2 separate regions of the Homo sapiens genome follow, and region 2 is linked to region 1. Evidence: fine-mapped expression QTL. A gene starts in region 1. The other region holds a variant in brackets. All regions are shown on one strand. Distances are from middle to middle. Region 1 holds the start of PRKCA (protein kinase C alpha). Region 2 has its middle 20 kb from the start of CACNG5.

Region 1 (5,375 bases):
TAGAAGCAATAATGAAAGCAAACTGAAAAAGACAATCCCCGTGGATGGTTTCCTGGGACTTCCAATTGGTTGGTTTACAATTAAATGCAGAGTGCTGCAGGGATCCTCAGGGGGGCATTTTCCACTTCACAATACTGGTGGTGACCTGAGCGCCTCTTCAGCTCACCAGGGGCTGATCCTTCAAGGGCAACTGATAGTGGAAAGACAATAGCTAGCCTCAGTATGCTGCAAGTCCCTTTCTAACTCTCCTACTTCCTGCAAAAGTCACCAGCAGTCTGTTCCCTTTTAATGGACTCTCACAGCTGACCTCCTCTTAACCAAATGCAATATTCTCTTTGCCCTGATGCTCCGAAATTTTTATTTTAAATAGCCTTATCTACGACTACCTACTCCTTTGAGCACAGTCGCTTCATATGCCGACTAGACAGTGGAAATCACTCATAGAGGTGGCTGTGCTTTTCATAAAAGTGTACTTGGGAGCAGATGTCTAAAAAGGAAAGGAAAAATTAAACACCTTATTCGCACCACGATCATGGGACCTGCCCTTTGGGATGTTTTTCCCCAGGTGTGATGGATTCCGACAGAGCCATCCATACTATGCTCACCCTAGTGGCCCAAGATACCTGTGCCACACAGCTGGCTGGTGGCAGGATTCACTCCGTGACTGCCACCCTGTGCAGCTCCCCCTGGCCTAGAAGGAGAGGGAGCTAAGAAGCCCTAGCCATAGCTCTGTCTTGCCCGGAACTTCCTACACCACAAAGAAGAGGTAGAAGAGTCAGGACGTCGGGCAACTTAAAAGAAAAACCAAACTACTGCTGCTCTAACTAGAGGACCTAGAGCTCCTTTAGTTCCAGCTTTCAAAACTTTTGTGTGGTGACGGGGATCTGGGAAGAAGGGTCACACACCTTTTGAGGATCAGATGAAAGCTGTAATTCTCTCACCAGGAAAAAGATTCACAAACACAATTTCCCTCAGTTTTACAGGGTTCAGAGACCCCTGAAGCCCTTCTATGTATCGATTCTCCATAAGCCCCCAGGGACCCTCCGAGTTAAGAATGCCTGAATTCATTGGCGATTACCTGATCTCTGACCTCTGGCCCTTATATTATTTTTCTTAAATAAGGCCTCTGCCCTCATCAACAGGGTTACAGGTCTAATCTCGAGTTGACAGGGTCTGTTTCATTTTTTTTGAGACGGAATCTCGCTCTGTCTCACCCAGGCTGGAGTGCAGTGGCCCGATCTCGGCTCACTGCAGCCTCCGCCTCCCGGGTTCAAGCGAGTCTCCCGTCTCAGCCTCCCGAGTAGCTGGGATTACAGGCGTGTGCCACCACGCCCGGCTAATTTTGTATTTTTAGTAGACGGGGTTTCACCATGTTTGCCAGGCTGGTCTCGAACTACTGACCTTAGGTGATCCGCCTGCCTCGGCCTCCCAAAGTGCTGGGATTACAGGCGTGAGCCACCGCGCCTGGCCGACAGGGTCTATTTTAAATGAGTCCCTCTGCCCTTGTGCCATTTGCCTGCTAGAACTCCCCCTCCCCCACTGCAAGCTTTCAACAGTTTGCTCTCTCTCTCTCTGCTCACTCAGAAAAGTCAGTCTCTCCGTGCCCAGTAGATGCAGCCTACAGTAGGCAGGGGCCCAAGATGCCAGCGCAGTCCAGCCCGATGGGAAGCACAAACACAACCCCCCCACCCCGAACGCGCCCAGCCTGGCTCGCCAGCAACTTGGACCGCGCGCAGTGCAATCGCCGCCGCTCCCCCGTTACTCCGGGGCGCGTTTCTCCGGGAACCTTTGCCCCCTTAGGGCCTCTCCTCCTCCCCTGTCCCCTGGGCTCACACCCCGGCAAGCGGCCGCTCCGCTGGGTGCGTGCGGGTGGGCGCGCCCGGGGAGGTGAGGGGCCCGGCCCGGAGAGGGATCCCCTTCGCCACCGTACGGGGCCAGCCTCCCTCTCGCGCCAGGGGGTGTGTGTGGCGGGACGGCGACGTCCCGGGAGTCCTGCCCGCCGGTGTCAGGGCCGGGCGCGCGTGTCACTCCGGGCGAAGAGTTCGGACTCCCGCCGGTTCCAAGTTATCGGAGTGAGCCAGCCCCGGGGCGGACGCGCCGGAGCGCCGGGTGCCGGGACCCGGAGGCGGGGAGGAGCGGGGCAGGAGTGCCCGGCCCGGCACCTACCAGATGAAGTCGGTGCAGTGGCTGCAGAAGGTGGGCTGCTTGAAGAAGCGCGCGATGAATTTGTGGTCCTTCACCTCGTGCACGTTCTTCTGCCTCAGCGCCCCTTTGCGGGCGAAGCGGTTGGCCACGTCCTGAGACGCCGTGGAGTCGTTGCCCGGGAAAACGTCAGCCATGGTCCCCCCCAACCACCTCTTGCCTCCGCCGGGGAGCTGCGGCCGCGGAGGGCCGGGTGGGCGGGGGCGGCGGGGGAGAGGTGCGGGCTCGGGGCGACCCCGGGCGCGGGGCGCGGGCCGGTGGCCGAGGTCGCGGCGAGGGGGCGCGGCGGGGGCCGGGGAGAGTCGGGCTGGTGCTGCGCGGAGCGGGAGCGGGAGCCGGAGCCGCTGGCTCGCCCGCTGGCCCCAGGCTCACTGACAGCCCGGTGCCCGGCGCTCGCGCTTCCTACTCGCGGCGGCAGAGGCGGCCCGGAGCGGCACCGCCCACCGCGCATGCCCCGAGCGCGAGGCCGCGAGGACGAGCGGCGGGGGCGCGCGGGCCGGGCGCGCGCGGGGGTGCGGCGAGGGTGCGGCGGCGGCGGCGCTGAGCGGACCGGACCGAGTGCGGAGGAGGCAGCGAGTGCCTTGCGGTGCTGGGAACACTGGGCAAGGGGAGGCGGCGGCGGCGGCGGCGGCGGCGGCGGCGGCGGCGGCGGCGGCCGGGGGAGGGCCGGCCCGAGTGGGGATGCGGGGGAGGAGGCCGGGAGTGGCGGGTCCGCGCTCCTCCGCCGCCTTTTTCTTTCCTCCCCTTCCTGCGCCCGGCTCTCCTCCCTCTCGCCCTCCTCCGCCTCAGTTCTCCTCCTCTTCTTCCGCTCTTGCCGCCCGGCCTCCTCCTCTCCCGGTCTTCCTTCTCCCACTCCCGCTCTCTCTCTTGTCGACGGGCTCGGAGTCCTGCGCCACCCGTGCCGGGCCGAGAGGAGCCCGCGTCCGGGAGTGGGCTCCACGCGCAGCCCCTGCCCCGGAGCCTCCCGCCCGGTGCTCACCTCCTAACCCCTCAGCACCCGCAGCAGGGAGCCCCTTCCCCATCCTCAGGACCCCCGGTGTCTCCAGGGCACGACGCCCGTGTTTTAGCTGCCTGTACCAGCTTGAGGTTTCACCTGGCCAAAATGTCACTTTCATCACGTGTGCACTAAAAGACCTAGCCCCTAGACCTTCCTACAGGAGGAAGAGAGCGATTTTTAAATAATTAAGCATTGACCCTTTCCCCTACCTTCTCTTCTTGACCTATACCTTATTTCACCTGCGTGTGGTAGAGACTTTTAATTTGTACGTCGGGCATTTATCACCACGTGGGATGGTTAAAGGACTTGTCTTAGGTATTTATCCCGTTATTCAATGGCCACCAGAGCGACGATGTTGATTATCAGGCTTTCTTGATTTTACAAGTCCAGGACCTTAATTTAGAAATCATTTTGCATCCCAAGCTAATTACTGCAATACTGTCAGGTGCAGAGTGCAGCCAGTACGTTTGTAACTTACCAAGTAAAACTGCCTGTGAAAGAGTAGCGGGCATGGCTATGCAAAGGACGCAGGTGGGGATGCACCAGCTAATCACTCGCTGAATATTTATCAGGTCTGCCTGGAGGCCGCTAAAATACATAAGGGAAATAATCATTTCTCAGCGTTTCATTGGTGTTTTGTTTTATTTGCCAGATTCACGAAATCCCCAAAACGACTTTACGAGCTAAAGAGACCAAGAAAGAGAACACGTTTGATCCTTCAATAAATTTATGTTGAAAAAAAAAACTTTTCTAAAATACTTTCTTAGAGCATGTAACATAGGCCAAGTAGAGCTAATATTGTTTTCTTTGAGATTGCCTAATTGTGATGCTTGATGATAGGAATGTCCTTTATATTTTTAACAAATGGAAGCTCTCCTGACTGGCCGTCAGTGGTGCATGCACTTGACTGATCCATTTACAATCTCTTGAGCCAGTCTTGGTGCTTCAAGAGCCTGCACCTGCCTGGTATTCTAGCTGGTCAGAAATTTCGCCACTCATGGTCGCCCCTCGGGTCCAAGGAGTCAAAAAGGGAAGAAGCAAAGAGGAATGAAGAGCAGGGCATGTTGGGGAAATAGTCCCAATTCTCCATGAAACACTAGAAGCATCTCAAGCCATGGTGGTTTATTGCTTGAAAGCAGAAATCAAATGGAACATAGTGGAATGAAATAATTTCTTTTCTCATAGTCGTCTTTTATCTAAGACGGAGATCCTGGCACATTTTACAAAGACAAGCTTATTTCTATGTCCCTGAGGCTTTCATAGGAGGATGGAGAGAGCTGGAGGGTGAAGTTGCTGATAATGGAATCCTGAGTAAAGTCATAGGAAAGACAAGAACAGAATGAGCCCTGGCAGCAGCCTGCGAATCTCCTGTGTACTCCATGGAGTGACTGTCTTAGCTGTCAGTAGATCAGATGGAACAATGTGTCTGTTTTCTTTTAGGTTGTGGCTTTGCATTCTTGCCTCAGTTGTTAGTGTTGTTCCTGGTGGGTACGAGGAGGAATGATTGACTGGAAGTCAACTGATTCATGGTTGGGCTGGGCATGAAAGCATCAATAGCCCACATCTTAGCTCAGTTGGGGAGAGGGGACTGTGCACCCAGAGTGGGGATTTATCAATTACCAAGCAGTGTAACACTGTCCCTAGCAAGGACTGATGGAAATGTGGGCCAGCATCTACTCCTGCAGCCTACCTGAAGTCCCCATGGTATAACTAAAATGGAGGAGATTAAGGACGGGAGAACCCCCTGGGTTGGGGGTAGTCAGTCAGTCATGAGGGCATGAGTAAATTTTATTTTCGAGTCTGCTATTTCATGGGGAAGGTGCGGGAAAAGAACAGGGAATGTCAGACTGAACGCAGAGTTTTTCAGAATCCGCTTCTGTCCTCTGCCTTTGAGGAGTAAGCTCAACACTGTTTGGAGAGGTGTCACCTAGACCAGGGGGACCCAGAGGCTGGAGGCTGGGATCAAAGTCAGACCACCAAACAGATGACTCAGAATCCCAATGGTTTGAAGCCAGCGGTCTTTCAGATACAATTTACAGCTTGCTGCTCTATGCAGCTAACTGGACTGTTTTCAAATGAACCAGGACATTTTCAAATTGGGCAATAGGAATTGCATAAGTATCGAAAAAGCATCATTCTGAGATTTATGGTAACCAAGATGACTTAAGGCTTATAT
Region 2 (5,375 bases), 510 kb before region 1:
CTCAAGCAGCCCCAGGTTCGACTCATGCCTCCACTCCAAAGAGCCTAAGTGGTAAGCATTGGTGTCATCATCATTTCCATCTGACACCTCATTATCATGGCCTTTACTGTCCACGTTTCTATTGGCATTCTGGTCATAAACACTTAACCAGTCTCTTAGAAGTTCCAGCTTATCTTCTAAGCCCTCACCAGAATTGTCCTTAATGCTCCACTCCAAGCAATGCAATCTCTTTAATGCCTGTTCCTTCAAACTCTTCTAACCTCTGCTCATTATCCTGTTCCAAAAGCCACTTCCACATTTTCAGGTATCTTTATAGCAACACCCCACTCTTGGTACCAGTTTTCTGTCTTTATCCATTTTGTGTTGCTATAACAGAACACCTGAGACTGAGTAGTTTATAAAGAAGCAATTTGGCTTATAATTCTGGTGTCTAGAAAGTTCAAGATTTGGCATATGCATCTGGTGAGGGACTCAGACTGGTTCAACTCATGGCGGGGGAGTTGAAAGTGGAAGGGGAGCTGGCATGTGCAAAGAGATCACTTGGTAAGAGAGGACGCAAGAGAGCAAAATCAACGAAGTCAGACTCAGACTATTTTTAACAACCCACTCTTCATGGAATATCCTTTCCCTTGAGAGTGAGAACTCACTCACCCCTAAGGGAGGACATTAGCCTATTCATGAGAAATCCACTCCCATGACCCACATACCTCCCATAGGCCCCACCTCCCAACACTGCCATAATGGAGATCAAATTTCATCATGAGTTTCGGTGGGGACAAACAAACCATATCCAAATCATGGCAAGATATTTGTATTGACCTTCGTCCTGATGTACTCTTATTTCATTATTCACTTGAAGTCTTTTACTTGAAAGCCACTTAAAAATCTATAAAAAGAGGCAAAAATCAAAAACACTCCTGGCTATGAGCCCTGGTAGTCACTGAACCCCTGGTGCAGAGTTTAAAGCTCACATAAATATTTGTTGACCGAATGAAGGCACTTGATAACAAACCAACTAAGAACAGCATGACATTGAAAAGAAACACTCGTTACTACTTGATCTGAGAGCAAGAAAATGTCACCATAGAAAACAAGGCTTTGGCCAGGTGTGGTGGCTCATGCCTGTAATCCCAGCACTTTGGGAGGCCGAGGCAGGCAGATCACTTGAAGTCAGGAGTTTGAGACCAGCCTCTGGCCAACATGATGAAATCTTGACTCTACCAGAAAAAGACAAAAATTAGCCAGGCGTGGTGGTGCATGCCTGTAGTCCCAGCTACTTGGAAGGCTGGGACAGAAGGATTGTTTAAACCCAGGAGACGAAGGCTTCAGTGAGCTGAGACTGCATCACTGCACTCCAGCCTGGGTGACAGAGAGAGACTTCATCTAAAAAAAAAAGAAAAGAAAAGAAAACAGGGTTCAAGAAGAAAAACAGGAAATAAGAAGTACCAAGAGTCTAAAAAATGTTCAGCTATTGGCCGGGTGCAGTGGCTCACGCCTGTAATCCCAGCACTTTGGGAGGCCGACGTGGGTGGATCACGAGGTCAGGAGATCGAGATCATCCTGACTAACACGGTGAAACCCCGTCTCTACTAAAAATATAAAAAGTTAGCCGGGCGTGGTGGCGGGCGCCTGTAGTCCCAGCTACTCGGAAGGCTGAGGCAGGAGAATGGCAGAGCTTGCAGTGAGCCAGGATCGCACCACTGCACTCCAGCCTGGACGACAGAGTGAGACTCCGTCTCAAAAAAAAAAAAAAAAAAAAAAGTTCAGCTATTGTATTTCCAGGAATCCAGTGGAAGATATAATCTAAAATGCATTCAAAATTTTGGGAACAAAGGTGTTCAACAATGAGTTTTCAAAATAATTTAAAAACCAGGAAAACCTAAAATTCCAACAATAGGGGAATTAGTAAGAAAATGTCAATTTCATTCCCAAAACATTGAATGTCTGCTACGTTGCTTTGTAGTTAAGTAATTAATCAAATTCCACATAAACCAATGAAATACAAGTGCAAAGCATAGAGTTGTTTCAGTGAACACAAAATGGAATGTTTAAGAAAAAGAATAACGAGTTTTTAAAAACAGCTACAGAGACAGTTGTGGGCAAGGCAACTGTAAAAGATTAAGAAATATTGCAACAATCTAAATGGACTTTGCATTCAGCTTTCTTTGTGAATATCTGGCTTCTCTTCGAATAAACCCTAACTGGAAACTGTAAGACAAGTATTATGGGTATAGTTAATGCAAGAAAGAAATTCCCTGCTCAGAGAGAAGTCCCCACCCTTACTGAATGGTCATGCATTTATTGGCTTTTAAGTTACAATAAAGGCCAGGCACGGTGGCTCACACCTGTAATCCCAGCACTTTGGGAGGCTGAGGCGGGTGGATCACAAGGTCAGGAGTTCGAGACCAGCCTGGCCAACATAGTGAAAACCCGCCTCTGCTAAAAATACAAAAATTAGCCGGGCATGATGATGCAAACCTGTAGTCGCAGCTACTCGGGAGGTTGAGGCAGGATAATTGCTTGAACTCGGGGGGTGGAGGTTGCAGTGAGCCAAGATCACACCACTGCACTCCAGCCTGGGCAACAAAGTGAAACTCCGCCTCAAAAAAAAAAAAAGTCATAACAAAATGTTTAAAGGATGTGTGTGTTAACATCTGTGATCCTAGCTTTCAGTGACCAATGTCAAGGCCCAGTGGAGTCTCATAAGAGGGCTTTGAGGTTGATATGGTTTGTCTGTGTCCCCACCCAAATCTCATCT[C/T]GAATTGTAGCTCCCATAATTCCCATGTGTTGTGGGAGGGACTCAGTGGGAGATAATAGAATCATGGAGGCGGTTTCCCCCATACTATTCTCGTGGCAGTGAATAAGTCTCGTGAGATCTGATGGTTTTATCAAGGTTATCCCTTTCAGTTGATTCTCATTCTCTCTTGTCTGCCGTCATGTAAGACATGCCTTTCGCCTTCTATCATGATTGTGAGCACCCCACCCCCAGCCACGTGGAACTGTGAGTCCATTAAACCTCTTTTTCTTTGTAAATTACTCAGTCTCGTGTATGTCTCTATCAGCAGCGTGAAAACAGGCTAATACCATGGTACAGTCTTGAAAAGATAACAAGATGATGAATAATAAATAAAGTTAGCAAGGAATCAAAAAGTTTAACCATCTTGGGAAGTTGGGATTTTCTTTTCCTCATCTGTATTAGCTACAATAAGCAGGTGTTATTTTTTGTAAATTTTCCAAAAACCCAGAAGCATTCCCACAGTATTCTGACCTAACCAAGCCCAACCTTTCCTCCCCGGGCTGCCCAGTGCCCCCAAGAAATCAGTGATTTCTCACAAGTTGTTCTGCTCACTGGATGATGCTTGCCTTGGATTGTTTTTGACTCCTGGGGTAGGTGGAGCTGGGGTCTCAATGTAGGGCTGTCCTGTGGTGGGAGGGGGAGCCTGGGGCCCACCAGCCGTTCCTGCCCGCTTCCTCCTTCCTCCTGGGCCTTCCAGGCAAGTCAGTCAGGTGAGGGCGGCTGCAGAGGCACCTGCTGTGTTCTGAGAACTGTGATGCTATTTTTCTCTCTCCTCCCACGCCCAGACAGCTCCAAAAAAAAAAAAAATGTCGAGAGAAGGAGGGTGATGGTGGAAGAAAGCCTTCTGGAAACAGTTCCAGGAGGGCATCTAGTCTCATAGGCATCAGAGTCAGCTAAGGGCAAGGAACATCCCCCTTGGTAATAGGATGGACTTTGAATGAAACCACAGTGGGGGGAGAAGTTCCCCAACAGGGTCTGGCCCTGAAGCTCCCTACCCAATGCTACATCTGACCCTCTCATGGGACAAGGCTAGGAAGATCAGACTCAGTGCCCAGCCTGGCTGTGCTGCTTAGGAGTTGCGTATCTGGAAGCTGGTTAATTACTTTGGGGTTCAGTTTCTCCATCTGTGAGATGTGAACAATGGCCTCCAGCCCATGGAGGTGTCATGAGGATTAAATGAGATGGGTGTGTTCAGATGACAAGCTAGGCACTGCGCGCATGCCAGCCCTTCCCCTCCTCCCTGCGTGCTGGTGTCTGCTTGTTTGGGACCTCTCCTTTCCAGCCTTTCCATCAGACCTCAGCCTCCCTGCCTCCTCCCCCAGGAAGGCATCTGGCGTGCTCACATCTCTGCTCTTTCGGTTGGCTCCATTTGTCTGGTGTTGTTCACCTATGTGTTGTTATTTAAGTTCCCTGGAATTCCCTTTCTTCTTCTGTAAAATGGGCACAGTAAACAGCACCTATCTGGGGGCAGGGGCTGTCATTGTGGGATTGAAATAAATGCACATAAAGAACTTAGAAGAGTGCCTGGTACACTTCTGGTAATCAATCAGTGTGTGTGCCTCTGTGTGTGCACATGTGTCTGTGTGCATGCGTGTGTTTGCGTGTCTGTGTGCATGTGTGTGTGTGCATCTCTGTATGCATGTGTGTTCGTGTGTGTGTGCGTGCACAGTTTGCGCGTTCCCATTTACAGCCCCCTTTAGACTTTTGGTTTGTGCCATTTCCACCTGTCTGTTGAGTCCCTGAGCCCACCACTAGCTCTTTCATTTCACTAGAACCATTTTCCACTTTCTCCCCTTATGGCTAGAATAGGCCTCTTTGCAATGTATTTATTGAATTAGCTTTGTTAAAAAAAGAATCTTGGGGAGACATCCAGTTCTGCTTTCTTAGAGCCAAAAGCACTTCTCACCCACTCCCTGCAGGCAATGCCCTGCTCTCTGTGATGTGCACTCCCAGGATGGGGACAGAGTGTGAAAATAGATGGCCTTGGCCTTTGCCCGTGTGCATTAGCATTTTAGCTGAACCATAATTTCATCCCCAGAGCACACAATAAGCCAGGGGCAGGGGGGAAGCTCAGGGAGTTAAATAATCACTCAAGTGTAACCATAGGCAGCCATCGCCTCTAGATTCTGGGCTGAAGGACAGAGGTTGAGAACTGGTGTTTCCTAGGCTGAAGCTCATCATGAGTTTGAGAGATGATCTTTAATTAGTTCTTTTTTGTATATCTTATCTACTTCATTAGTGTGTGAACACCTCCAGGGCAAATCCCATGGCCCAGTAAGGGTGTCTGGAACACGTTGCTAGGCTCAGAGCAGTTTTGGGAACGATTAATTGACTCAGTCATTCAATGAACATTTTGAGCTCCTATTATCTACCAGGCTCTGCTCTAGGCACTGGGATGTAGCAGCAAACAGGATGGACAAGCCGGCTCCTCTTAGAGCTTCTATTCTCATGGGAAAGGGTGTGCGTATACACACACACACACACACACACAGAGAGAGAGAGAGAGAGAGAGAGAGAGACAGAGACAGAGAGAGAGAGAACTCACTCTCCCCAACCATTGAATCCTTGGTCCCAGAGC

The links. PIP is the estimated chance that this variant, and not a neighbour inherited with it, causes the effect.
Region 2: its variant is fine-mapped to the expression of PRKCA in whole blood (INTERVAL, PIP 0.91).

Annotation. Positions count from the first base shown.
Region 1 is chr17:66,299,816-66,305,190 of GRCh38, reverse strand. It overlaps PRKCA (protein kinase C alpha), which reads right to left and starts at 2,578. Exons shown (of 17, transcript NM_002737.3): 1 at 2,167-2,578. The coding sequence starts at 2,339. RefSeq lists an enhancer at 1,283-1,784.
Region 2 is chr17:66,812,907-66,818,281 of GRCh38, reverse strand. No RefSeq gene overlaps it. Among named protein-coding and RNA genes, the nearest start is that of CACNG5, 20 kb to the left of the region's middle. The variant C/T (reference allele first, on the strand shown) is at 2,759.